Homo sapiens: one gene and its partners. The protein of the gene in region 2 interacts with the protein of the main gene of each other region in a pairwise test. Each region holds a gene or a part of one and is shown on either strand. Other genes may lie near its edges. The genes, in order: EPS8, HNRNPC, KPNA5 and KPNA3.

Region 1 (7,029 bases), on a different chromosome or scaffold from region 2:
TTCTCCCTTACTGTGGTTGAAAGTTTTTGTAAGTATAAAGTAATATGAGTTCTAGCCCATTGTTTTATTTAGAGAGAGGAATACTCAGCAGCTGCTTTTATGTTACTTTTTTCTTGTTAATGGCCAAATCCTTACTCTCTAAGGAACATTTTTGTTTTTAGAGAAAGAGAAAAAAAATTCTAAATATTAGCTGTATCTTTGAATATTAGCCGTTTCAAATGTTATATTATGCATAAACAGCAATGCATGTGAAAGGGAATTAAGTGTAAATACCAACACCTGGATGCTTTTTATACTTGTAGTTCAACTAATTAACAAATTAAATGAAACCTAAATTTAGTATTTCTGATCTGGGAGTTGAATATCAATTTTTGCAATAGTGTATGATAAAATTGTATGTAAATATTTTTCATCGTTGGTTACTGAATTCATGTAATTCTGTCTGTTTGGAGTTGTACATTCTGGACCATGACATAAAAGCTAATAGACAAAATAGTGAAACACAACCAGTGGTTCTATAGCCAAGTAAGTTTCATCCTACCTCTAATTGATTCTGAGCGAGAAAGAGAGGCAGGGGCCAGAATAGGAGGGGAAATAGACTTAGTCTTATGTTAGGAGTTGAGCAGCTTGTACTACTAGAAACCTAAAACCCTACTGCCATGTTTATTCATGAATTTATTATTTAATATACCATTTGACGATATTTACATTCTTAATTTGGAAAGGAAAATGTTCTGCTTGAAGAGATAGTATATAGTAGATGAGTTGCACACTGTTTTATAAAGTTCATTCCAACATGCAGCCAAGGATGAGAACCACTGTTAGCAAAAGTGGTGAATTTCATTAGAGGATTCATCTTGAGTAGTGTTGAGAGATTTTAGTTAGGCTTTTTATACTGTTTTAAGGCTTTGGTGAGATTTCTAGCTTAGGAGCCTAATTACTATTTATACCAGTTCTTGTGAATACATGTGATTCTCATAAAAAAGAAATGTATTATAATTGCCTTTTAGGAAATGTCTTTCAAAATTGCCTATTAAAATGTTAATATTAACCTTTATGGATTGACTTAAAAATCACTGGAACTACTAGTTTATTTATAAGTCCATTTATGGCATTTATACATTTTTAGGATCTTTAAAAGGTAGTTTCTTATACAACTTATTTATTGTACAACATAGAGAAAGCAGCTTAGGAATTCCTAAAGTGGATTCTTAATTTGGAATATTAGAAATGACACCATATCTTCTAGGCACTCAGAGTGATCGGTTAATGTCATACTGTTTAAAATGCTATCAGATAGTTTTTCTTCTCATTTCTGTAAATTATGTTTCTGTGGGATTGGGAAACTATGGGTTAGGAAATCAAGAGGTCAGGGATAAATTCTTAATACTTCATAATGAGAATATCTAAATAGAAACACACAGTATTTCAGATCTTCAACTGTTGTATTTGCCAATAAATTACCTGAAAGACAAAGCATTTGAACATCCAGGAGCTGCCATATCATGACTGGGTGTCATGGCAACCACTGCCATTTCTTTTCTGTCCTAAGGTCAGATCAAAGCAAGCCGAGCCCTCCTGCTCTGAATCTATCGTGGACAGTTGTGTTAGAATATGGTGAACCAGTGACTCTGAAATAGTGATTATTTCTAGATGTGGTTTTGTGAAATATATTCCTGAATTATATATTGTATTACAAGAGTCATAACGGCTGTCACAGGGACAATTATCGATGTGTTAATATCTCACACTGATTAATCCTCAACAACTAATCAGAAAAATCACAGTCGCTCACTTTTTAAAAATATGTAGAATACAGTCATGTAAGTGAAGGTTTATGTTTTGTTATATTGGGAGAGAAAATTTTAGGTGAAACCAGATCTTTCTTTTTGATGACATTATTTTGGTAGGACCAGATGGATCATACTTCCTCAGGTCATCATCCAAACAAAAAAAGAAAGGTAGCACAGAGTGAATTTTGTAGTGCATCTGTTTTTATTAAGTAATTTTAATGCTGCAAAAGCAAAAATGGAGTGTATTGGAATATCAGAGTAATATTGATACAAGGACATGGAGATTTTAATCTAAATTTTAAAAGTAAATATAAATGAAATTCATATGTGTTGTAAAATGAAAATTTATTAAGTTTTCTTAAAATTCTGTGTTAATGTTCTGAGTCTGCATATGTATATATGCACTTTATATTTTTGTACTTGCTCAGCTTTTATGTTCAGCAGAACTTTCCAAACAACTTATCTATTATAGAATATCTATACTAACTAAAAGAAATAGGTTTACATTTACAAAAAAATAGGTTGTTGGGAAAGCTAAGGTATATCTATATGTCAGAATGTTAATGGCTTAAAGGCCTTTAGGTTTGACCTTGTTTAATCCTTTTATTTTACAGTAAGGGTGCTGAGGCCCAGGGTATTAAGTTTCTTGCCCAAATTTAGTTTCCTACTTAGTGACAGAGCCGAAGCTGGAACAATAAATCTTATAATTCCCTCTCAGAGTTATTTTTCATCATAGCATTCTGTTTAGAAGAAATAGGGCAACTCTGAATTTACAAATAAGCAAGTTGCTTGATTAGAAAAGTAACAAATAGTGCTCACTTTGGCAGCACATATACTAAAATTGGAATGATACAGAGATTAGCATGACCCCTGTGCAGAGATGGCACTCAAATTCATGAAGTGTTCCATATTTTAAAAAACAATACAAATTTTAAAAAGAGAGTAACAAATACCAAATATTGCCGACATACATTTTATATTTTAATGTTATTTTTTTGGTTTTGCAGCATTTCAGAAAAGAAAATTAAAGGTTTCTTTTTGCTTTTTAAGTAGTTTGGTGCAATAACTTTCTACCTGACTTTCTTGTTTTTCCTATCAGCTTATATTTATAATTCTAAGTATCACATTTGTGTGTTTTGTAGATGTGTGAAAACTGTTAATATTTAATGGCAAGCCATGTGATTGAATCATGTTTTAAATCTCCTCTAACACTATCCCAATTTGGATATTGCAAAAGGAGATGTTCCTTGTAATGCCTATTATTTTAATAATGTAGTCTAACTCATATAATACAGTATCTATGACAATATTTGCAATTACATTTTGATATCAGTGCAGTAACAGATGAAATTTATAAGCCAGTTGTAATTGACTTGTCAAACAGTAGGTCCCTGACTGATAAATAAAACCTTTAGATGAAATAACTTTTTTTCTTATAATATTTATACTCTTGTTAACCTTTGGAATTCTAAAAATGGATAGTGGATCAAATTGTTCTTGCCTATTATTTAGACTTTCTTGTGGTTTTTAGATTTACTGCGAATAATGAGTGTTTTCAGATACACCACACAATGGCAACTTGTCAGCTACTGTATTTATATGTGAGATAGACTAGTTTTAGAGATAGCCACATGATACCAACATATGAACTTCAGTCTATTAGGGGACAAATCATGGCTTTTTCAATTTCTCTTTCAGAACAAAGGAAGAATTATGCACGGGACAGTGTCAGCAGTGTGTCAGATATATCTCAATACCGTGTTGAAGTAAGATGCTTTGGTGTTTGCTAGTATTTAGAGTGACCCTTGAGGAACATAAAAATTGGAAGTTAAATCAGAATTCTGTTTTATTTCATTCTTATGATGTATTTTAAGTTGCATTGACCTTTTTGTTTAGATTTTTTAAAACAGATATTACATATAAAGTATCTTGTTAGTCTGTGGTCTATTTTCATAAAGAATGATTTAAAATCATAACTACTATCCATTTATCCTTGCCAGTCTTATTTCACTTATAATAGAATAATGGCTTTTACTTTGTACTATAGAATCTTCTTGAAATTAAGCCTTTGCTAGTTTCAGTGAGCAATTTAGTTTTTAGTTTAACTAAAGTTATTGCCAGTTCTAGTTAAATAATGGTTCTTTTTTAGTTTTTGCCCTCTTTTACGATATTTGCTCTTGATTGGAATTTATCTGGTTGACCTGTGCTTATAATAGAAAATATTTAAGCAGGGAAGTAATTTTTAAATTGCTCTTATTTTCAGTTTTCTACCTATGTCAAGCATGCTTAATCAAATTTAAACAGTTTTGTTTCAGTAAGTGGTTTTAGTGGATTGAATAGTTTGACAGTTCCTATAGACTAGAATTGTGCTGTTGCTACAATCAGTGTCCATAGTTTTGAAGCTCCCATACAGATAGCCTGCTGTTTAAATGCTGCTATGTTCAGCATTTAAATAACCATAATAGAGTGTCAAATAGGGGAAAGTTTATTTTAAGAGAATATTATTTAAGCTGTTAAGAATTTGTTTTAATGTCATGTTTATGTAGTTCAACATGGCTCCGTATGAAACAGATTTAGGTATCTTATGAGTCAAAACACCATTTCTTCTATTCAAAAAAAACCTTGGTTGGCTTTATTCTCTCATTAAAATAGTCATGAAGTTTTAAGAGTACTTTGTGTTTGTCGTTCTCTGCTAGCTGACCTCAGGTTATTTGATTTTCTTTTGGAAAATGTATACTAAGAGGTTGTATGTGTTTGTATGTGTTATAAATCTTTTTCCTTTTTGCCAATTGTAAGCACTTGACTACCTTTGTCCTGGATCGGAAAGATGCTATGATCACTGTTGATGATGGAATAAGGAAATTGAAATTGCTTGATGCCAAGGGCAAAGTGTGGACTCAAGATATGATTCTTCAAGTGGATGACAGAGCTGTGAGCCTGATTGATTTAGAATCAAAGGCAAGTGTGTAAAATTTATACTATTTTATTTTCAAGAAACTCCACAAATATTAATGTTTACAATCATTTCAGATTGTTTGAAAATGGATGGAAGTTTGACAAAATAAAATGTTCACTTTATTTATAGAATGAACTGGAGAATTTTCCTTTAAACACAATCCAGCACTGCCAAGCTGTGATGCATTCATGCAGCTATGATTCAGTTCTTGCACTGGTGTGCAAAGAGCCAACCCAGAACAAGCCAGATCTTCATCTCTTCCAGTGTGATGAGGTTAAGGTAAAAGAATGGTGAAATTTTTGTTTCTTCTTTAAGCAGATTGTCTGGGAGCTTTTGAATTACCTATTTTGATAATATATCTGCATATTAGTTACTAGATTTTTAGTTTCTGAGCATCTCGTAAGGAAAACAAATACCTTAGTATCTTCTCTAGGATTTCCATGGCAAGTAAATAAAGAAATTAGGGTGATGTTAATCAAATCAGTAGTTCACACTTGTAATCCCAGTGCTTTGGGAGGCCAAGGCTGTAAGATGGCTTGAGGCCAGGGGTTTGGGCCCAGCCTGGACAACATGGCAAGACCCAGTCTCTACTAAAAAGGTTTTAAAAATTAGCTAGATGTGGTTGTACACGCTTGTAGTCTCAGCTACTCAGTTGGCTAAGGGAGGAAGATCTCTTGAGCCAGGAGTTGGAGATTACAGTGAGCTATAATCACCCCTCTGCACTCCAGCCTGGGCAACAGATTGAGATTGTGTCTCTTAAAAATAAGATGCATTCTGTTTATTTTTTTAAAGTGTAGATAATATATTAAATTCACATCAAATGCCTTAAACTTATAATTAAAAATTGATTGTTCAGAAATCTTGCTTTGTGGACAGTAAATAATCATGTAATTTGAATTTATTCTGCACTAATGACATAGCATGGATTACTGCAATGAAGTACTTAGACATTTCCCACGATATTGATTTAAAGTTCACCATTTAATTATGTGACTTGATTCATTGCTCAGGATTTGTAATTCCCAGATGATATGTGAAAATAGTTGAGCCAGTAATAACAGGCTATATCCTGAAAGTTTCTATTTCAAAGTACAGTGTAATTTCAAATGATTATAATTTGTGATGCTTTATTGGACCTTAGAAGTTATCTTCAACCTTGAATGTGTTTATTTCCTCAGTTGTTTTCTTTAAAAGAGAAATCATTTTGTGTTAATTGGTACTTTGCCAAAGCAGTGATTTAACATTTTGATGATATATTATAAAATATCCATGTAATTTTATTTTATAAAGAAACTCTAGGAGATTAGCACAGTTACTTGATCTTTTCTGTGTTTTTTGACATTTAAAGATGATAGATAAAGTAAGATTGACTGTAAACTGTATTTTATAATTTTCTTCTAATTTCAATTTACGTCATGGATGACTTTCTAAAAACCTTCTTCTAAAAGAACTGGCATTTAGGTAATTTGTGTAAGTGATATTCATCAGATTTTTGTATAGTGCCTTTTGAAAGTCATAGTATATTATAATTTTTGTAAGGTTAGATATATTCAGTCAATAAATATTAAAGGGAATATTTTGCTTTAAAAATATAGTGAAATTTAATTCAAACATTTTTATAAACCAGAGGCCTAAGTTGAAAAACATTTCAAATTTGATGTTTGTATCTGTGTTCTAAAAAGCCCCCCCCGGGAGCTAAAAGTTACTATGCTGTGAAAAGTTTCTGGATTTTAGGTTTGGGAACAAATGGCTTGCTTTACTTGATATGGAATGGTAATGATAATGGATTCAAAATGTATTTACTGAATATAGTTTTGTCCTAACCCCAAAAGCTCACATACCACGAAGCACTGTATGCATTTACTCATTAGTTTCATACTCTGCATATGAGACATTTTTCGCTTGGCTGGTTAAAAATATAGAGGCAATGAAAAACGCAGTTTCTTTTATATGGCTCATTGTGCAATATTGCTTTTGATTTTTAAAGTTTCTTTATTATAGGACTTCATGCAATGCTCCTGCCCACCTTTGCAGTAAAATTTTTCTTAGAAATATAATAGCCCCAGTATAAGAAGTTGAAGATTCCTAGGCATCTTCAGTTTTCATTTTGGGTTTTTTTAAATAATTATTTTTAATTAAATATCTTTTCATCTTCAGTTTTAGTATCCTATGTAACAGAAAGCCTTTGACACGATATTTGTAATGTCTTATTGAAACTAAATGCTCTTAGGAAGTCACACTGGACTGGGATGCATTGGCCTCTCATTTAACTAGCAATGT
Region 2 (7,029 bases):
GAGGATCACCTGAGCTTCGGAGGTCTAGGCTGTATTGAGCCATTATTGCATCACTGCACTCCAGCTTGTATGACAGTGAGACAGTGTCTTAAGGAAAGATGAGTTGTTTTGTTCCACATTTTCTAATTTATGTGTCTGTGTGATTTTCTAAACTTCGTAGTTTGTATTAGCTGGGCATGGTGGTGCCCGCCTGTAGTGACAGTTACTCTCGAGGCTGAGGCAGGAGAATCGCTTGAACCGGGAGGTAGAGGTTTCAGTGAGCCAAGGTGACACCACTGCACTCCAGCCTGAGCGAGAAAGCGAAACTATGTCTCAAAAATAAAAAAAATAAACTTTGTAGTTTGTTTTACCCGGATACAAAGTTGTCATTAACATTTTTACTTTTGTTTTTCAGATATTAACCTGGCTGCAGAGCCAAAAGTGAACCGAGGAAAAGCAGGTGTGAAACGATCTGCAGCGGAGATGTACGGGTCAGTAACAGAACACCCTTCTCCGTCCCCTCTACTCAGGTCCGGAACTTTATTATTTATAACTGCATTGTGTCCATCAGTGGGCATCTTCTCTTTCTGTTTTCTGGGTGTGGGGAGGTTTAAGTGTACTGTGTTTTATCTGTGTATAAATAAGGTTTTATTATTTTTGTGTTAATATGTCTCTTTTTTGCCCTAGAGAAAATTTCTAGAGAATTAAAAATCCCTGAGGTTTTTGCTATTGATATTAAAGAGTAGTTTGATATTTATAGCATAACCTGAAATACTTATACAGGATCGTTGAGCTTCTAAGACACTAGAGAGTAAGAGAGGGTAGAAGTGTGGTATAAGAATGCTTAGTTTACCATTCTGTTTTTCAGTGTTTAGTTTAGCTATGTCGTATGTGGAAATCTTAGCGAATTTTAACCTGAATTTCCAATTTGACCGCTACATTTCCAGTGGTCTAAGGTGATTGGAATTGAGTGATTTATTGTATGAATGATTGGGGATCATTCAGTGCTAATCTTGTTGATCTATTTGTTGTGGTTTATTTGGCATGGTTCTCCCCTCACCTGACATTGTGAATTAGTAGAAACATTTCCAAATTAACCCTTTTCGGTATTTATTTTTCAGCTCCTCTTTTGACTTGGACTATGACTTTCAACGGGACTATTATGATAGGTATGTTAAAATGTTTTGTATTTCTGCTAAACAGCTATTTAGTGAGAACCATTTCGTTCTTCTGGTTTGTGGTGATGAACATCAAAGATGTTTTCAAACATACTCCCCTAACTCCAAAACAAAAAAACACCTTTTTCTAAATCATTAAGTAGATTATTAGGTAGGGTGATACTGATTTTAATGCATTATTTCATAATCCCTGGCTAACGTGGTGAAACCCGTTTCTACTAAAAATACAAAAAAATTCGCTGAGTGTGGTGACTAGGGACTGGGTTATGGGTGGCTTTGGGTAACAGATTTAGAACTGTTGATAGCAAATGCTTAACAGGAAATAGGATGATGTGCTTAAGAGTGTTACCACATTGACATTCTGATAACATCAGTCTCAGTTAACATGAAGGAAATGTTAAGACTTATTTGGCTTGTCGCGTTCAAACTCATGCAGTATATGTAAGTATATGGAGCAAACTATTGTATGCAATAGACTTTAAACATGCAATATATAAAGCATATTACTTTATATACTATTTGTCTTATAATGCCAGTATTCCAGTCATTAGTATTTTAATGTTATTACTGTATATAACAATTCAGTCTGATTTTGGAATAAAAATTACTGATTGGGGAATGCTTAACATTTGAACTGAGTTAATCAGTCATGCATGGGAGTTGTAAAGGAATCAAGTCAGCCGTTAAATACCATAAAGTATACACTGAAAGTGTCAGACATGAAAGTATAGACTTTCTGTTTGAGAAATAACCTCACAGAATATGGTACGTAGTCATTAGAAGGCCAGAAGAGTAAGGCCCGAAAAGGAATTCAAATCCAGATTGTAAAGGGCCTTGAATGCCATAATAAAATGGTGTGGTTGAGCATCATTAATGCATCATCAAAATGTTTTTTTCATTTGACATTAGCGGTTTCCTCAGATTTTTTTTTTTTTTTTTTTGAGACAGTCTCGCTCTGTCGCCCATCCTGGAGTGCAGTGGCGCAATCTTGGCTCACTGCAAGCTGCGCCTCCTGGCACAGCCTCCTGAGTAGCTGGGACTACAGGCGCCCGCCACCACACCCGGCTAATTTTTTGTATTTTTAGTAGAGACGGGGCTTCATCGTGTTAGCCAGGATGATCTCGATCTCCTGACCTCATGATCCGTCCGTCTTGGCCTCCCAAAGTGCTGGGATTACAGGCGTGAGCCACCACGCCTGGCCTGATTTTTTTTTTTTTTTTTTTTAAATACGGAATTTTCCTCTCGTCACCAGGCTGGAGTGAAGTGGCGTGATTTTGGCTCACTGCAACATACGCCTCTTTGGTTGAAGCAATTCTCCTGCCTCAGCCTCCCAAGTAGCTGGGGTTACAGGCATGCACCACCACTCCCGGCTAATTTTTGTATTTTTAGTAGAGGCTGGGTTTCACCATGTTGGCCAGGCTGGTCTCGAACTCCTGAACTGAGGTGATCTACTCGCCTTGACCTCCCAAAGTGCTGGGATTACAGGTGTGAGCCACTGTGTCCAGCCCTTTCCTCAGATTTTTACAGTTATGTGTGAACATTTTGAAAACTAAGGAGTTCTGTAATTCTTCATTTTTATTTTTGTTGAAATTTTTGAAATTCTTAAAAAATAAAAATCAGCTGGGCACGGTGGCTCACACCTGTAATCTCAGCACTTTGTGAGGCCAAGGCAGGTGGATCATGAGGTCAGGAGTTCAAGACCAGCCTGGGCAATATGGTGGAACCCCGTCTCTACTAAAAAAATACAAAAATTAGCTGGGCGTGGTGGCACGCGCCTGTAGTCCCAGCTACTCAGGAGGATGATGTAGGAGAATTGCTTGATCCCGGGAGGTGGAGGTTTCAGTGAGTTGAGATCGCGCCACTGCACTCCAGCCTGGGTGACAGAGTGAGACTCCTTCTCAAAAAATAAAACAAAATAAAAATCAATGGAGAACTTCCAGTTGAAAATAAATCAGGACATTACTAGTGAACTCAGCCCATTTATTCCTGAAATTGCAATTTTTTGAATTTTTGCAATCAGACCTTGGTAATGACCTAATGCAGTAGGATATAAATAACTCCGACAAGCTTAGCATTCCAGTAATGGAACATTAGGCATAGATGGGTTAATTATTGGTCAGGTGTCTTGAAGGCACTGAAACCCAGTGAGTTTGTCTGAAGCATCTGCCCTTTAACCCTTTCTGCACATGGTAATTGCTTGACCACATTTAAAATATACTCATGCCAGCTTCTCCTATAGGGATTCTTACACAACTGGTCTTATGCAGACTTTCTTAAGTACTAGTATATTTTTCAGTGCTTTCTATGTGTTCTTTTGTCCAGTCAGAGTTGAGAATCATTAATAAAAGATTAAGGACGTGGTTGTGTTTCTGTGTATTATTATCCTATTTCTTTGTCATGGCTCAATTCAGACCAGTTTAATAAACTCACACTTTTGTTGGTATAATTTCAGGGATGTCATGGACTCTTAGTTGATGTTTTTTATGAGTGTATCAAGTTTTAGCAGTATACAGTGACAGTCTTCTTGAAAATAGTTCTCATTAAAAAGTCTTTTCTTGGCAAGGCACATTGTGAATGGGGAAATTTGAAAATTTGAGCAGGGAATTTGGAAAACATTAGTTGAGACAATGAGATATATACTGCAGAGAAATCTAAAGAAATCACGTTTGCAGAAATATCTTCACAGAAATTGGTGGCCTCTTCAGATTTTCAATAGACAACAATATATTAGGTTTGAGCAAAAGTAATTCCGTTTTTGACATTTCTTTGAACGGTAAAAAGCAAAACCGCAATTATTTTTGCACCAGCCGATACTAGTAGTTACTGTCGGATATATTGCTGCATGTTATTGTCAGTGAAAAGTAATGTCTTCTATTGTTCTAACGTCAGCCAGTAGATAATGATTACTGATAACTAGTGGAGCAACTAGGTAATAGCTGGCAAAGAGCTGACTTTTAGAGTACTGAGATCTTTGTTGGGAAAATGAATTTTAGGAGGTGTCCACATGATGGGAACTTACTCAAGTTGGGTTGGAGAATTGAGGAATTGAGTGTGTGTCTTACATGATAGATGTTAATGAAGGTGAAAGGAGGAGGAGTGTTTGTTTAGTGGGGAGAGGGGCAGATACAGGAGTTTTTTGCTGGTTTGGAAAATGTTAGGTCAATTTGGACCTGGGAAATAGGTTGGGTATGACCTGGTGGAATAACAACTTAGAAAAATGGTATTAATATCTTCTAAGAAGTCATTCTGAAGATTCATTATCATAAGGTTTAGATTTTTATTTTAAATGGTAACAGCGATACTTCATTGACTATGTTAAATTGTTTAATCAAAGAAGATGGGAAATTGGCTCTGAGTGAAAGCTCTGGGTCTTCATATGTAAATCGGAGTAAAAATCACTGTCCCCCCCCCCCCTTTTTTTTTTTTTTTTTGAGATGGAGTCTTTTCTGGCACTCAGGCTGGAGTGCAGTGGGTTGGTCTTGGCTTACTGCAACCTCTGCCTCCTGGGTTCAGGCGACTCTCCTGCTTCAGTCTCCCAGGTAGCTGGGATTACAGGTGTGCACCACCACACACAACTAATTTTTGTATTTTCAGTAGAGACAGTGTTTGTCCACGTTGGCCAGGCCGGTTTTGACCTCTTGACCTCAGGTGGTCCACCCGCCTGGGCTCAAGGGATCTCCCTGCCTTGGCCACGCAAAGTGCTGAGATGACATGTGTGAACCACTACGCCTGGCCCTCTTTTTAATATTCATTTGAAGGCGCTGGTTTTGTTTTGCGAAAGGTGTTGTAATAAAAGTGAATTTTTATCACAATGTTGGGAATGCACAAGTATTCAAAGCTGTAGTTGTTGAATTAAGCGAGATTGGGAAGTACTCTAAAAATAGATCTTTAAGTCCTTAGGTAGGCTGGCATATACATGAAATTGATGTTCGTCAACAGCTACCCTGGTACTATTCTTTCTTTCTTTTTTTTTTTTTTTTTTCTTTTGGAAACGAGTCTCGTGCTGTCTCCCGGGCTGGAGTGCAGTGGTGCAGATCTCGGTTCACTGCAACCTCCGCCTCCCAGGTTCTCGAGATTCTCCTGCCTCAGCCTCCTGAGTAGCTAGGATTACAGGTGCACACCACCACACCCAGCTGATTTTTTGTATTTTTAGTAGACATGGGGTTTCAGTATGTTGGCCAGACTGGTCTCAAACTCCTCACCTGACTTCATGATCCATCCACCTTGGCCTCCCAAAGTGCTGGGATTACAGGTATGAGCCACTGCACCTGGCCCAACCTGGCACTATTCTTATAATTCTTTAAAAAATTCTCATAAAAGTCTTGATCTATATGTGTTTTCTGATTTGTGCCACAAATACTGCAGTGTTTTCATACTAAAACTATATCTAGATATAAACTAGATATATTTTCTTCAGATTGTAATAAATTGGAACCCCACTTTCCCTTATAATTGATCACCCATGAAATTGTTCTCAAATTAGATAATGGTGATATTGCAGAACTAATAAAAACCACGGAGTGGCACCCTTTTAAATGGTGAATTTTATGGTATGTGAATGACGTTTTGATTGAAAATGGATGCGACATTACAATTGAAAAAGGATACATCACTGTCTTATGGACAGTCATTCTTTTTTGTCATATCTCGTGGACCCTACCTACATCAGGATACTTGCCAGTTAGAGACATAGATGAAACCCGTCTGGTGCTACCAGCCTCAAAAGGTAACTCTTACGCCTGAGGATGGACACCTTTTAGAATTAAAAGAACTCTCAGTCATTGTGGGACATCTTGCTAGCCTTCATAGAGACTGATTTACTGTCAGCTCTTTTCTTGAGTCGTCTCATCTCTCTCTGTTTTTTTTTTTCCTTTTTTTGAGACAGAGTCTTGCTCTATTGCCCAGGCTGGAGTGCAGTGGCTCGATCTCGGCTCACTGCAACCTCCACCTCCCAGGTTCAAGTAATTCTTGTGCATCATCGGCCTCCCAATTAGCTGGGGTTACAGGTGCCTGCCACCATGCGTGGCTAATTTTTTTTTTTTTGTATTGTTAGTAGAGACGGGGTTTCACCATGTTGGCCAGACTGGTCTCAAACTCCTGACCTCAGGTGATCTGCCCACCTCGCCCTCCCAAAGTGCTGGGATTACAGATGTGAGCCATCGTTCCTGGCCTCTTTAATTCTTATTTGGAGAACTTTGGGCAACACGAAATAGAAACTGCCAATAAATGGCAGGTTTGATAACAGGCTTTATTATGACAGCGGAGACTTGGTGAGCAAGAAACCTGGTTCAAAAAGACTGGTTTAGTTCAATGGTCTTTCTGAGGACTTTTTAAACTTAGCACATTTTGTATGTGGTGCATGACTAGTAATACAGTATATAAGTAACGAGTATGAAATTCTTAGAGGTTTTCAGAGTGCTGTTATTACTCCATGGCTAAATATATTAATATGTCAGTGCATTAGAAATAGACAAATCTTCAAGAACTCACAGGTCAAAGATGACACATGTAACAAAGATTGAGTTGTGAGGGGCCTTGATGTGTTTGAGGAGCAGCCAGCTGTAAAGTAAATTGTAAAGAATGTTAGTTGTAAAGGGCTTTGTATTACATGTTCTGGGATTGTGTCCTATAGATGGTATTTTAGAAACAGGCCTGTGGCTAGAGGAAAAAAGATGTGTTAAATGGTAAACATTGTAAATGTTGGAATGGAGAGGAGGTTGGGAGAATTTCTGAAGTAGATTGGTCTTGATGTGATTGGTTGGACTAAAGGTATGAAAGTAGGTGCTTGTAGGAAAATAATAGTCAAAAGCTGAGATTTTGTCTTCGTGACTAGATGATAGATTATGCCATTAATGGTTACATGAAGGGGGGT
Region 3 (6,858 bases), on a different chromosome or scaffold from region 2:
TATCTCATGTTGTCATTGTAAAGTTAAGTATATCAAATTTTAATTTTGCAGTGATCAACAGGATCTCAGAAGAAGTATGTTCTTACTTTGATAACTTACCTGCTTCCTTATTCCATTTGGGCTGCCATAACAAAAATACCAAAAATGGGTTGACTTATAAACAGTAAACATTTACAGACAGTCCCCGACTTATGATGGTTTGACCTATGACATTCCAACTTTACAATGGTGCAAAAGTGATACACATTAATAATAAACCATACTTCAAATTTTGAATTTTGATTCAAAAATTCTTTATAACTTTATTCTGACATAGGCTTTGTGTTACATGACTTTGCCCAATTGTAGCCTAAGTGTTATGACTATGTTTACAGTAGTCTAGGATAAGCTATAAGGCTCAATAGGTTAGGTGTATTAAATGCATTTTTGACTTACAATATTTTTCAACTTACTGATGGGTTTGTTGGGAAATAACCCCATTGTAAGTTGAGGATCATCTGTATTCCTCACAGTTTTGGAGGCCAGAAGTCCAAGATCAAGGCTCAGACAAATTTAGTGTCTGATGATAGCCGGCTTCCTCATAGACAGTACCTCTACACTCACATAGTGGATAGGCAAGGCATTTCCTTTGACCTTGTTTTACAAGAGCACTAATCCCATCATTAGAACTCCATCCCCATGATGTAATCACCTCTCAAAGGCCCCACTTCTTAGTACCATCACTTTGAGGGTTAGGTTTCAACACATGAATTTGAGAGGGACAAACATATTCAGACCATAGCATCTGCTTAAGTAAAAAGAAATTGGTGAGCCAATGGGTTAGAACCCTTTCTTTTCCATCATGGCTTGTGGAGGAGGTAAGCTAATAGGGCAATACGCTCTCTACTGTTGAGGCAGCAGCTTTTGGGATAAAAGGACCACTGAGAAGTGGATTTTATTTTGACAGGCAGATTGGGAAAGATGCCATAGAAGGTCAGGTCTTGGTAGGAAGTTGCTGTGGTTGGCATTGCATACAACTAATGAAGTCAGCATCTTGATACCAATCCTATTCCTCCAGTTCTTTCCTGGATATGAAAAGCCGGGACCTAGACCCTGCTGAGCAGAGGTCTAAAAGACACCATTATCATCTCTTCTGCCATATCTATCCAGAGGGAAGGCATGTCCAGATAGCAGGAATCTTCTTCAGGAGTATAGAAACAAGTGCAGACCATCTAAATGAGAACAAGCAAAGCCAAATTTATTTGGAGCTTACAATAGCAAGGGAGTCAGCCATCATCACTTGCATTTGTCAGAGACTCAACGGCAGGCAGAGGAGTGAGAAAGCTTTAGAGTGGAAAAAAGGGAAAGCTTCAGGTATGCCAATTCAAGGCTGTTGGCATGGAGAAGCTGCAGGTGGGCTAACTAAAAGCAGGGCATCCTATGTAATTATTTAGGGGTGGGTAGATATTTGGCTCTCTCTAGCTGGCCTTGAGTTGGAAGCCCTGACAAAACTTACAGAAGCTGTAAGTTATTAATCACGTCCTGGCCATTTGGGGTAGATTGCTACAAGGGTTATTGCTTGGCTTCCTGGACTGGTTGCTAAATATAGTAATCTGATTTCTTGGACTGGTTACTGGACATAGTAGGTTGCCTTCCTGGACTGGTTGTTGAAGGTTGTAGGTTAGTGTTCTATTTGTATATATTCTCTGGCCATTGTCTATTTGAATTCAGTCTCCCAGGACGGAGGAGTAGGGAGGAAATAAGAAAGGGATAGGGTGGCCAGGTGATTAAGGCAAATAAACTCCTATCAGTACTCCAATAGTCCTGTTGTCAGAGGCGTTTGAACCAGAGTGACTCCAACTTGAACAGGTGCTGGGTAAAACGAGGCTGAGACCTACTGAGCTGCATTCCCAGGAGGTTAGGCATTCTTAGTCACAGAAGATTGGAGGTCCACGCAAGATACAGGTCACAAAGACCCTGCTGATAAACAGGATGTCGTAAAGAAGACAGGCCAAACCCACCAAAACCAAGATGAAGACAAAAGTGACCTCTGGTCATCCTCACTTCTCATTATACGTGAATTATAATGCATTAGCATGCTAAAAGACACTCCCACCAGCACCATGACAGTTTACAAATGCCATGGCAACATCCAGAAGTCATACAGTCTAAAAGAGGGTAGAACCCTAAGTTCCAAAAATTGCCTGCCCCCTTCCTTGAAAACTCATGAATAATCCACCCCTTGTTTAACATATAATTAAGAAATAACTGGCTGGGCGCGGTGGCTCACGCCTGTAATCCCAGCACTTTGGGAGGCCGAGCCAGGAGGATCACCAGGTCAGTAGATTGAGACCATCCTGGCTAACACGGTGAAACCCTGTCTCTACTAAAAATACAATAAATTTCCAGCTACTCGGGAGGCTGAGGCAGGAGAATGGCGTGAACCCGGGAGGCGGAGCTTGCAGTGAGCCGAGATGGCGCCACTGCACTCCAGCCTGGGCGACAGAGCAAGACTCCGTGTCAAAACAAACAAACAACACACAAAAAAACTATATACTCAGTCCAGCAGCCCAAGCCACTGCTCTGCCTATGGAGTAGCCATTCTTTTGTTTCTTTACTTCTTTAATAAACTTGCTTTCACTTCACTATATGGACTCATGATTGGCAACGCTTTCTGGTAACACTGCCCAGGTTTCCTTTGTCAAGCGTGCCTTTCTCAGCCCTACATACCCACAGTTAAATAATCCCTTCTCTCCTGTTTATTTTTCAACTATTGAAAATAGCAAACATCTTAAAACAATTTGTCTTCATGTTTTTCCTCTTAAAAAATTGCAAACGTCTTCTGGGCAGGATTTATGTATTGTTTATCTTATTTATTCTCTTCCTATTGCATCTGGAACACAGTCTGTTTTCAATACCGTTTGTTGAACTCCAGGGTAGATTACAGGGCTGTGTATTATAATCTACAGTACTTTAACTGAAGTTACTCGTTTATTGGTGACTACATTGCTGTCAAAAATACACTCATGTGGCTGGGTGTGGTGGCTCATGCCTGTAATCCCAACACTTTGGGAGGCTGAGGCGGGCGGATCAGGAGGTCAAGAGATCAAGACCATCCTGGCCAACACGGTGAAACCTGGTCTCTACTAAAAATACAAAAATTAGCTGGGCGTGGTGGCGCATGCCTGTAGTCCCAGCTACTTGGGAGGCTGAGGCAGGAGAATCGCTTGAACCTGGGAGGCGGAGGTTGCAGTGAGCCGAGATCGCATCACTGCACTCCAGCCTGGTGACAGCGCCAGACTCCGTCTCAAAAAAAACCCCCCAAAAACAGAAAAACAAAAACAAAAAACCGCAGATGTTATAGAATATAAAATTATAAATGACAAAAAGCTTGAAATAAAACGAGCAGAGCATATAAAAGTTAATGAAGCTGAAGAAAACGTGAGCTTCTCCGTACACTTAACAAGGCTGCGATTTTTACCAACTTTTTTGCACTGTTGTAGCCCCAATAATGTATCTAAAATGGTACTTGACACAGTTTATATCCTTAAGAATGTATGCATGCACGCACGCGTGAAGAATGAATGAATGAGGGGTCGTCCCTTTGCACACACGGAGGTCTACGGGCCGCAGAGTACCTACAGCATGGCCACCGCAAGCGCAACTAAAATCCAGGGCTTGTCGCAGGCACAGGCTCCTCCTTCGGTGGGTGGGACGGCGGCGCGCACTTTCTCTACGCCCCACTGCTAGGATGTGCGGCCACCACTCCTCCTCCGCCGCCGCCGCCGCCGCCGCCGCCGCCGCCGCGTCGAGTGCAAGGGCTTCTGGGAGCCGAGCCTCGGGGTCTCGGAGAAGGGGCGCAGGTGGCCGCCATCTTGGATTGCGAACTGGGTCGCTACGCTTCACGCCAGGGGCGGAGTGGCGGCCCTTCTGTTACCCGCCACACACGTCGCCGCTGGGGACTGGGAAATCAGGGCATCGGAGAGTGCCACATTAATGGGTAAGTTGGAGTGAACACGGGCTAGGTTGGGGGAGCCTCGGTTTTGGTCCCTTTGGGAACTACTAGTTCCTGGGGCCACGGTTTTTATTTACCCCTTACTTTGCGAAGGTCTCTGGAACCTGGCGGTGCCGGGTGTTTCTCGTGTTTTCCCCAGGGCGACAGCGGTCGCGGGGGCGTGGCAGCCGGACCTTTCCCTTGCGGACGCGAAGGCGTGGTGAGTTCAGATTCTTTCAGCAGGTCCTCTGGAGTGATGGGCAGCTGGTCTCATCTTCGCCGCCCCGCCTCACCGTTTCTCGGTAGTTCTTTTCAGTTAATGGAATTGCCAAACGTTGCCACTCATACCTGGTACCCATCAGCTGTGTCCAGCAGCTTATGGAAATTCCACAGTGTCCAAAGAAGAGACAGGTTCCATCCCGAGGGCCTCCTAGCCTCGCCCTCTCCATCCGCCAGCCTCCCTCCTCCACCTGCGTGCAGGTGCCTCTAGTGCTCATTCCCGACGACAAGGCAAGCCTGGGTTCCACGCTTCTAATAGTCGGGCAGCTCCGTTCTAAGATGAAAACTTAGGTTTTCATCGATAATACATAGGAGATGGAAGTATTTGAAAGCTGTGAAATGACAGTGATATGTCTAAAGAATATGACATTGGCGGCGGGCGCGGTGGCTCACGCCTGTAATCCCAGCACTTTGGGAGGCGGAGGCGGGCGGATCACGAGGTCAGGAGATCGAGACCATCCTGGCTAACACGGTGAAACCTCGTCTCTACCAAAAATACAAAAAATACAAAATAAAATACAAAATAATAAATACAAAAAAAATACCAAAAATACAAAAAAAGGAAAAATTAGCCTGGCATGGTGGTGGGCGCCTGTAGTCCCAGCGACTCGGGAGGCTGAAGCAGGAGAACGGTGTGAACCCGGGCGGCGGAGCTTGCAGTGAGCCGAGAGCGCCATTGCACTCCAGCCCGGGCGACAGAGCGAGACTCTGTCTCAAAAAACAAACAAAAGAATATGACACTGGCATTTACTTTTGAGCTTTTTAGACATGTTTTTTAAAAAAGACAAAAACACTAATGATTTATCTCTCAATTACAACACCCAATAATGATGACTCATATTCTGTACAAAAGTGGTTTTCTTGGTAGGTCAGGAGCAACTCTCTCCCTCCGACCTAAGTACTGCTTGTTTGGTTGTGAGGGCTCTCTAGTTGGCACTTCCCCCGCTTTGTGCAGTCTTTTACTTTCACTAATGAGGCGCCCAGCCCCATGGAAATGAAGGCTTTACTGGCATAAGAAATAATGTCGATTGATATTAAAGAAAATCATAAGTTCAGATTCCAGTTATTTGCCCAACTTAAACATGGTTTTTCTAAGAGCCGTTGAAAGCTTATGAATGAAAAAAATTCCTCTATTCTGTAACTTTAAAGTGCTGGAATAACATTTCTAAATAAAAATATTTAATTTTTATGAGACCTCAGCCTTTGAAGTGCAGCCTTTAAATTTATTTTTCAGTGAACGAAACAATCCCATTGGATGGGGCCCCTTTAGAGATAATTTCCCTTGGTTTATTGTCCCCTTTAAAGCAACTGCAGTGAGGATGGATGCAGTGTTAAATCTGAAGCCGGAAGTCAGTACTATTGAAGAAAAAGGAACAAGTGATATCTGAGTTGTTGGTGCTGTATTTTATTTGGCTAAAATTTATGCTGAACAGTTACAATGTGGTTGCTTGGATTAATGGTCTCATAAGTAGCGCCTTTGTATGTGTGCGTGGTGGGGCACAAGGTGATCCAGTCAGATGTGGTAAGAAAATATTAGAACTTCTATTTGTTTACCTTTTAAAACTTTCATTCTTAAAAATTTCTGTTTTTTGTGAATTTTATGCTAGAGTAGTATATTAGAATAGTAATGCATGTATAGAAATAAATATATTGAGGATGAATGCACAAATGTATTTTACGAATGTAGGATGTGTGATTGAAAACGTTTAGAGCCAGTGGCCTAGAATATGCTACATATATAGGTGATAAATACTTTAAGAGTTTTATTTCCATGAGCATTTTATTTTACTTAAATATTTTATATATATTGAGCGTAATTCAACAACTAATACTGTGGTCAGTTTGCACTGTAATGAACTCTGATCTCTAATTTTTTCCTTTCAAGAGTCTAGCTTTTTATAGATATAAAATAGAGAATAATACCAAACATTGTTATTAGTAAAGTTATGTTGAGCGGTTTCCCTCTTTTATTTATTATTTTTTTTTGAGATGGAGTCTCACTCTGTGGCCCAGGCTGGAGTGCAGTGGCATGATCTTGGCTCACTGCAAGTTCCGCCTCCCGGGGTTCATGCCAGGAGTCTCCCTCCCGGGGTCTCCTGCCTCAGCCTCCTGAGTAGCTGGGACTACAGGTGCCCACCACCACGCCCGGCTAATTTTTTGTATTTTTAATAGAGATGGGGTTTCACTGTGTTAGCCAAAATGGTCTCGATCTCCTGACCTTGTGATCCACCTGCCTCGGCCTCCCAAAGTGCTGGGATTACAGGCGTGAGCCACCGTGCCCGGCCTTTTTTTTTTTTTTTTTTTTTTTTTTTTTTTTTTGACAGAGTCTTGCTCTGTCTCCCAGGCTGGAGTCCAGGCTGGAGCGATCTTGGCTCACTGCAACCTCTGCCTCCCGAGTTCAAGCAATTCTCCTGCCTCAGCCTCCAGAGTAGCTGGGATTACAGGCTTCTACCAGCATGCCCAGCTGATTTTTGTATTTTCAGTAGAGACAGGGTTTCACTATATTGGCCAGGCCGGTCTTGAACTCCTGACCTCAAGCGATCGACTCTCCTTGGCCTTCTAAAGTGCTAGGTTTACAGGTGTGAGCTACCCCGCCCGGCCATATT
Region 4 (6,892 bases), on a different chromosome or scaffold from region 2:
GCTGACCCCAAGTTTTTTGACAAAGCTTTGATTCCTTAATCAACTGCAAATAAGAAAATCTGTGAATTCACCTATGACCTATAAGTCACCCCCTGCCACCCTCGGCTTCAAGACAGCCCACCTTTCTAGGCCAAACCATTGTGTACTGATGTACAATTCTGCCTGTAATTTATGCTTTCCTGAAATTCACCCCTGCCTTTAAAAACCCTTGCTTGTAAAGCCATGAGGGAAGTTGGGTCTTAAGTGTGAGCTGCCTCATTTTTCTTGTTTGGTGCCCTGCCTGCAGATAAATGCCCTCCTTTTTCCTGCTGCAAAACCTTGCTATGAATGTTTGGCCTAACTGTGCCAGGTGAACAGACTCCAGTTTAGTTCAGTAATATGGTGTGAAGGAGATATTAAAATACAGTAAAAGAGTAATTCATGATTTACCTCCATTGTGATTTTTAAAAAAATAATTCCAAATTTAAATTTAACCATACAGAAAACAAACAAGTTATTTTCAGAAATAAGTTTTCAATGTTTTATCATATTTGATAGCAGCTTTTTTTATTGGTTACAAAACCTAAGCCCATATACAAAATTAGGAACACATTTAGATGCCTCTTTTGAAAGAACGTTTTAGTCTTTTTAAACTGAGTTTAAAAAAAAATAACAATGCAATTTTTAAACACTGTTTTGAAAACTTAAAAGTGCAGCAATATACTTAGTTTCCTTTATCTACGAAATGGTGCAATTCCAATTCAAAACTGGTAAGGTCACAAATTGAATCAAGGAAATGCATACAAGTGTCTGCACTACTTGATGCTAATGTTCACTTAAATGTTAGTTTGCACTTTAAAACATGAGAGGAAATAGGAATCATCACAGTAGAGGCCCAATTTTAATCATAATGTGTGCAAATTTTAAAAGGTAACTGTCAGTTAAGTAAGGAAAGTCCAGAAGAAACTAAACTGGAAGGGGTACGGTTCACAATATCAAGAAGATTTGGACTTTTAAGGGTTTCACCGAAGTTTGTGACCTTAATTAGCTTTTACGTTGTTATTCCTACTTTTAGCGAACACCACACAGTTTCAAAAATTTAGACTATAGTGTCCGAACAGGATGCAGTTACCATATGAAGCTTTAACTCAAAATTTGGATAAAGAAAAAAAGGCACAATGAACTTCAACTCAATTTTATGTGCACAAGAGTTGAAAAATCTGAGCCACCTTAAAGAGAAATTGATTCTAAAATTTATAAAACCTATAAATAATCAGAGGCCAAACCACTATATTAAAACAGATTCTCTAGCAAGTAAAAATCTTGCAGTTTAAACATACGCTTGTATCCACTTTAGATACAAGACAAAACTCACTCTTTAAAGTGGCTCCACCTTGGCAGATACATATATTTGTAATGAATGCACACCTGCTATGTGTTGTTTATCAGTGAAAACACCCCAGCTGATTCACAAAGCTCTGATGGCATCTGTCTCATCTTCATCACAGTAAATACACCCCCCAATGGATAACTAAATTAGTTTAGATTTTCTATCCCTTCACATCAATGCATTGGGAAATTATACCCAGTAAACAAGAGCAACAATACCATTTCTGTGACAGCACAAATTATTTAGTTTAAAAATTTTTAAATCCATATTCTTTCATTAATAACTGGGTCAGACAATTTACCAAAAGCAATAACTTGACATAGTAATACCGGATTTTGCAGAATTACTTAGAGATCACTGCAAATCAGGTTTATGTTAAATAACTGCAAATTACTCCTCTACACAGATCCCTGTCTGAATCTTTTAATATGTGAAGATGCTTTTTGAGTAGGATCTGAATTAACTTTCCCAATACTCAAAGAATGAACTCTTATGACACTTCTAAATAGTTGCTGGTTTGTTGCCAACCACATTATCAAAAGCACTGGTTACTAAGTAAAAAATATTTTAAGACTAAATTACAGTAAACATGAAAGCTCCACAGTTTAAACCCAATATAAATCAACCATATCCAATTATCAAATTAAAACAAAGAATATTAACTCCTGAAAGCTGAAAGCAAGATTTTTTTAAAAAACATCACCAATGGGTATTTTAGACTTTTGCAGTTTTTTTTTGTTTGCTTTTTGTTTTGCTGTTTTTCCTTTATACTCAGGGACTCTTGCTTTCAACTTAAACAGAAGTTCAAGTCCATAACAGGTTGCAGCTCAGGTAAAATACCATGCACAGCATTTGATTACTTCAAAACAGCAGGAACACACAGGCTGAAGAGAGTGGTCAAATAGGGCTTGCTGTTCTCAAAAATTAGGTATAATGGCAAAAGCATTAATATCCATATCTAAAGTTCTTCCTCCAACCCTGGCTTCTGAGGCAGATAATAAACACATCAATTACTGGTAGATGAAGTAGTTTTTTTTTTTTTTTAAACTTATCTGTTTATTCAATAACCAAGTTTCTTGTTTTTAAGTTACTTTTTTTGTGTCAGTTCCACCAATGAAAATCATTTGGCTTGTACTTTAAAATCTATTCTTCCACATAAAGAATATGAAAATATGTTTGTGGAGGACAATGATGGAGGCTCAGATCACACTGCACCTCTTTAGTCTTCCAACTTGTATATGCATCATACCAAAGTGTCTTGATCCACAGCGCACCATTTTCCAAAGGAGTATCAGTGGGCAGCTGACATGTCACCACTATGGAATATTTATTCTAAACTGGAGACTGCAGTTGTCAGCCTGTGGCACCAGGGAACAGGGAAAAATAGGGTAGTTGAGATTGTTAAGGAGAGTTCTAAAACAGTTTAGGAAATCATGCATATGCATTTACAGTCCATGTGATAGTGACTTTTGGCAACTGCAAAGTGACTGAGACATGGCTTGCTTTAGAAGCATCAAAACAAAGAGGCATGTGTGTTTTGGAGCCTTTTGTTGCTGTTGTTCTTATCATTTGGTAGCCATCTGGTGGTGCTTCATATTGAATGTGGGAAAGATGCTGCACTCAACTGAATTTAAAAATTAAATTCTTTTGTTTGAAGGTTGGCTGTTGGATCAAAATTGTAGGTACCTCCTTGTGTTGCTTCAGGAATGAGGCAGGGATCTTCATCAATCTGTAAAAAACAAGAAAAAAATCCTTATTAGGTTATGATACTATACATTATGATGTAAGTGGAATTGACTTTTTACCTCTTAGCAAATAATTCTATGTGAATGCTTTAACCAACTAAAAATATTCGAGTAAATCAATAATTTTATTAAGAAATTTAACAATTTAAAATTTAACACGTTTCGAAACTGCATTGTTAAGTTTCTGTATCTGGGACCTAGATTTATTTAACCTATCTGAACATATATCACTTATATAATTACTATTTCTTCCTAGTTAATAGATTAGAAATGAAACAAGAACTGTTTTTACAACTTTACCTTATAATGAAGTTTCAAAGTATTTAAGAGAAAGTGACTGATGGAATGTCTAATAGAAATACAGTACAAACTTATGTCATCCTAATAATAAAAGGAAAACTCTTAGTAAATTTACATCATGTATAGGTTTTCATTTACATGAAGATACACGCTATTTTAATATCTACTTACATCATCACCAGAGAAATACTGATCTATGATTTCAAATGCTAATTTATATATGTCTTCATTTTCATGTTGCTGTAAAACTTCAATTTTCTCCAAACCTGGTAAAAATAAAATAATCAAAATAACTGGTTAATTGATAAGGAGATACTAATCAAAACCACACTCATTTTAATCATGGAGAAATCCTAAGGAACTCAGAACACACTGCTCCCCCATCTAAGATAGTGGTTTGTCTAAAAAACAGACAAAACACGGGGCTGCTTCTAGTTGGAGGACCAGAATCCCACTAATTTTTTCCTTCTTAGAAGCCCTTGAGGTACCCGGATCCCTGAGGCAGACAGTCTAAAAAAACACCCAAACAATCCATTTGACAGAGGGAAGCTGTGGCATAAATATGTAAAGAGACTTATTTCAAGTTATATGGCAAGTTTGTGACAGTACTAGAACCAACTCCCCCACAGTGCTTTAATATAAATTTACTAATCTATTTTTTTTTTGAGACGGAGTCTCGCTCTGTCACCCAGGCTGGAGTGCAGAGTGCAGAGGTGTGATCTCGGCTCACTGCAAGCTCCGCCTCCTGGGTTCATGCCATTCTCCCGCCTAAGCCTCCCAAGTAGCTGGGACTACAGGCGCCCGCCACCACACCCGGCTAAGTTTTTCTATTTTTAGCAGAGACGGGGTTTCACTATGTTAGCCAGGATGATCTTGATCTCCTGACCTCGTGATCTGCCCACCTCGGCCTCCCAAAGTGCTGGGATTACAGGCGTGAGCCACTGCGCCTGGGCATTTTTTCTTTCTTTCTTTTTTTTTTTTTTTTTTGAGACGGAGTCTCACTCTGTAGCCAGGGCTGGAGTGCAGTGGCACGTCTCGGCTCACTGCAACCTCCACCTCCTGGGTTCAAGTGTCTCCTGCCTCAGCCTCCCAAGTAGCTGGGATTACAGGTGCCCACCACTATGCCCAGCTAATTTTTTGTGTTTTTAGTAGAGACGGGGTTTCACCATGTTGGCCAGGCTGGTCTCGAACTCCTGACCTCGTGATTCGCCCGCCTTGGCCTCCCAAAGTGCTGGGATTACAGGAGTGAGCCACTGCACCCGGCCAATCTTATTAATCTTACTGCCTCATAAAGTAATTTGTATCTTTCTCTTTGTTTTCCAAATGTTATTACCTTTATATAACCACAAAATGAGTTTTTAGAACCTTATAATTGGTATAAAAGATATAAAGATTTAAATTTTGAAAAACTTTCTTTAAAAAATGAATAGAGGTCTTATGTCCTATAGCCACAATGAACCTGGGAGAAAATATTTCCAGAACAGATATCATAGAATGCCTTCATTTATATTTCCAATATATTTACTCCACACATCATATACATGTTTATCAATTTCACACCTTAATATTCTTCCTTGAAATGTCTTTTTGAAGGTTATTTTAAAATAGTTGCAATTTTTTCTTATATACTAATAAACCAAAAGAATGGGGGAAATCGTTGCCAAAGTGCTTTATACAATTATAAAATATTAATATGTATCCTATTACTCCTATAGACAAAAGTAACTATATTGATAAAAAGCTGAAGAGTAGTAATTCTCTAAGTTGCTCAAACTTACTGTGTTATGAACCTGACTACAATTTTTAATTATCTTAATAGTAAGAAGATCTGGATTTTAACTTTGCTTCTATCACAACCTACTTCTGTCACCTTGGACAAGACTCCTTAAAATCTGTGGGATAATTTCTTCTCAAGAAACCCTCCCGGCTGGGTGCAGTGGCTCACGCCTGTAATCCCAGCACTTTGGGAAGCCGAGGCGGGCAGATCACCCGAGGTTGGGAGTTTAAGACCAGCCTGACCAACACGGAGAAACCCTGCCTCTACTAAAAATACAAAAATTTAGCCGGGCGTGGTGGTGCATGCCTATAATCCCAGCTACTAGGGAGGCTGAGGTAGGAGAATTGCTTAAACCCGGGAGACGGAGGTTGCGGTGAGCCATTACACTCCAGCCTGGGCAACAAGAGCGAAACTCTGTCTCAAAAAAAAAATAAATAAATAAAAAATAAATAAATAAATAAATAAATAAATAAATAAATAAATAAATAAATAGAAAGAAAGAAATCCTCCCAGTCTGAATATTCTACGGTACTACTGCATTTGTTTTCTCTTAAAATAAATAAATAAATAAACAATAGAATATTCATATAAAGTAGTCAATGAAATGTAAAATCTAAAACATGACATTATGATAAACTAATTTAAGGTTTAAACATGTTAGTACATATTGAACATGTACATTTAAAAACAGAATTTTAACATATGTTTCACATGTCATTAAAGAATAATACAGTATGTCAAATCACAATTATTTCTCATTAAAATTTCAAAGTAACTGCCACAGTAATAACTTCAGGATGTAGTTGTGGAAATCCTAAGAATCATTACAAGATTGAAACAAAATATCTAGGTGACTCAGAAGTCAGTAACCTTTTCCAACTATATGAAATAATATTTCCTAAAGTGGGGTCCACAGAATTACATGGTAATAACACACAAAAAAAGTGTTTCATTGTTAAGAAGTTTAAGAAATGCTGGATTAAATAAAGCTTTAAAATTTATGTAGTGTTGTAAGGGCTCTTAAATTTGCTGTCATGCACTGTGACTTCAAGAGAAGTATTAGTGTTTCCTAAAATGCAATGTCAGGCCAGGCGCAGTGGCTCATGCCTGTAATCCCAGCACTTTGGGACGCTGAGGCAGGTGGATCACTTGAGGTCAGGAGTTCGAGACCAGCCTGGCCAACATGGTGAAACCTCGTCTCTATTAAAAACACAAAAATCCACTGGGTGTGGTGGTGTGCGCCTGTAATCCCGGCTACCTGGGAGGCTGAGGTGTGAGAATTGCTTGAACTCGGGAGGCAGAGGTTGCAATGAGCTGAGATTGTGCCACTGCACTCCAGCCTGGGCGACAGAGCAAGATTCTGTCTCCAAAAAAAAAAAAAAAAGCTATGTTGTCAATCTCTAGAAGGCTATACAGTGACTTTCACAACCTGATTTTGCAAAGTATGGACTACTGTCTTCTGGAAAATCCTCTTGGAATGCAAATATAGTGAATAAAGAAAAGCAACATACTGTGATCATTTAAAAACAACGTATCCTAGTAATTTTCTGTCTAGTAAGTTGACTTTAAAGAACTTATGTTTCAGAGTTCCAGTGCTCAAATACTCTTCTTCCATCAATCCACTCTTACCTCCACATTCCTCTATTATTTCAGCTATTGTGCTTGCTTCATCACCGGCCATTATCAGAATGTTTTTTAGAC

The links.
Region 1: the proteins of HNRNPC (region 2) and EPS8 interact in binary tests that used the Homo sapiens proteins (3 or more experiments, as listed by UniProt).
Region 3: the proteins of HNRNPC (region 2) and KPNA5 interact in binary tests that used the Homo sapiens proteins (3 or more experiments, as listed by UniProt).
Region 4: the proteins of HNRNPC (region 2) and KPNA3 interact in binary tests that used the Homo sapiens proteins (3 or more experiments, as listed by UniProt).

What each region holds. Positions count from the first base shown.
Region 1 is NC_000012.12:15,667,386-15,674,414, reverse strand, and holds part of EPS8 (epidermal growth factor receptor kinase substrate 8), read left to right. Parts: intron 1-3,491; coding exon 3,492-3,559; intron 3,560-4,589; coding exon 4,590-4,751; exon of another isoform or gene 4,752-4,755; intron 4,756-4,878; coding exon 4,879-5,028; intron 5,029-7,029. UniProt on the Homo sapiens protein: Signaling adapter that controls various cellular protrusions by regulating actin cytoskeleton dynamics and architecture. Depending on its association with other signal transducers, can regulate different processes.
Region 2 is NC_000014.9:21,224,438-21,231,466, reverse strand, and holds part of HNRNPC (heterogeneous nuclear ribonucleoproteins C1/C2), read left to right. Parts: intron 1-394; coding exon 395-470; coding exon of another isoform or gene 471-509; intron 510-1,100; coding exon 1,101-1,148; intron 1,149-7,029. UniProt on the Homo sapiens protein: Binds pre-mRNA and nucleates the assembly of 40S hnRNP particles. Interacts with poly-U tracts in the 3'-UTR or 5'-UTR of mRNA and modulates the stability and the level of translation of bound mRNA molecules. Single HNRNPC tetramers bind 230-240 nucleotides.
Region 3 is NC_000006.12:116,677,360-116,684,217, forward strand, and holds the start of KPNA5 (importin subunit alpha-6), read left to right. Parts: upstream 1-3,851; 5' UTR 3,852-3,975; coding exon 3,976-3,979; intron 3,980-4,087; exon of another isoform or gene 4,088-4,133; coding exon of another isoform or gene 4,134-4,193; intron 4,194-6,858. UniProt on the Homo sapiens protein: Functions in nuclear protein import as an adapter protein for nuclear receptor KPNB1. Binds specifically and directly to substrates containing either a simple or bipartite NLS motif.
Region 4 is NC_000013.11:49,698,801-49,705,692, forward strand, and holds the end of KPNA3 (importin subunit alpha-4), read right to left. Parts: coding exon 6,821-6,892; intron 3,681-6,820; coding exon 3,586-3,680; intron 3,099-3,585; coding exon 3,000-3,098; 3' UTR 520-2,999; downstream 1-519. UniProt on the Homo sapiens protein: Functions in nuclear protein import as an adapter protein for nuclear receptor KPNB1. Binds specifically and directly to substrates containing either a simple or bipartite NLS motif.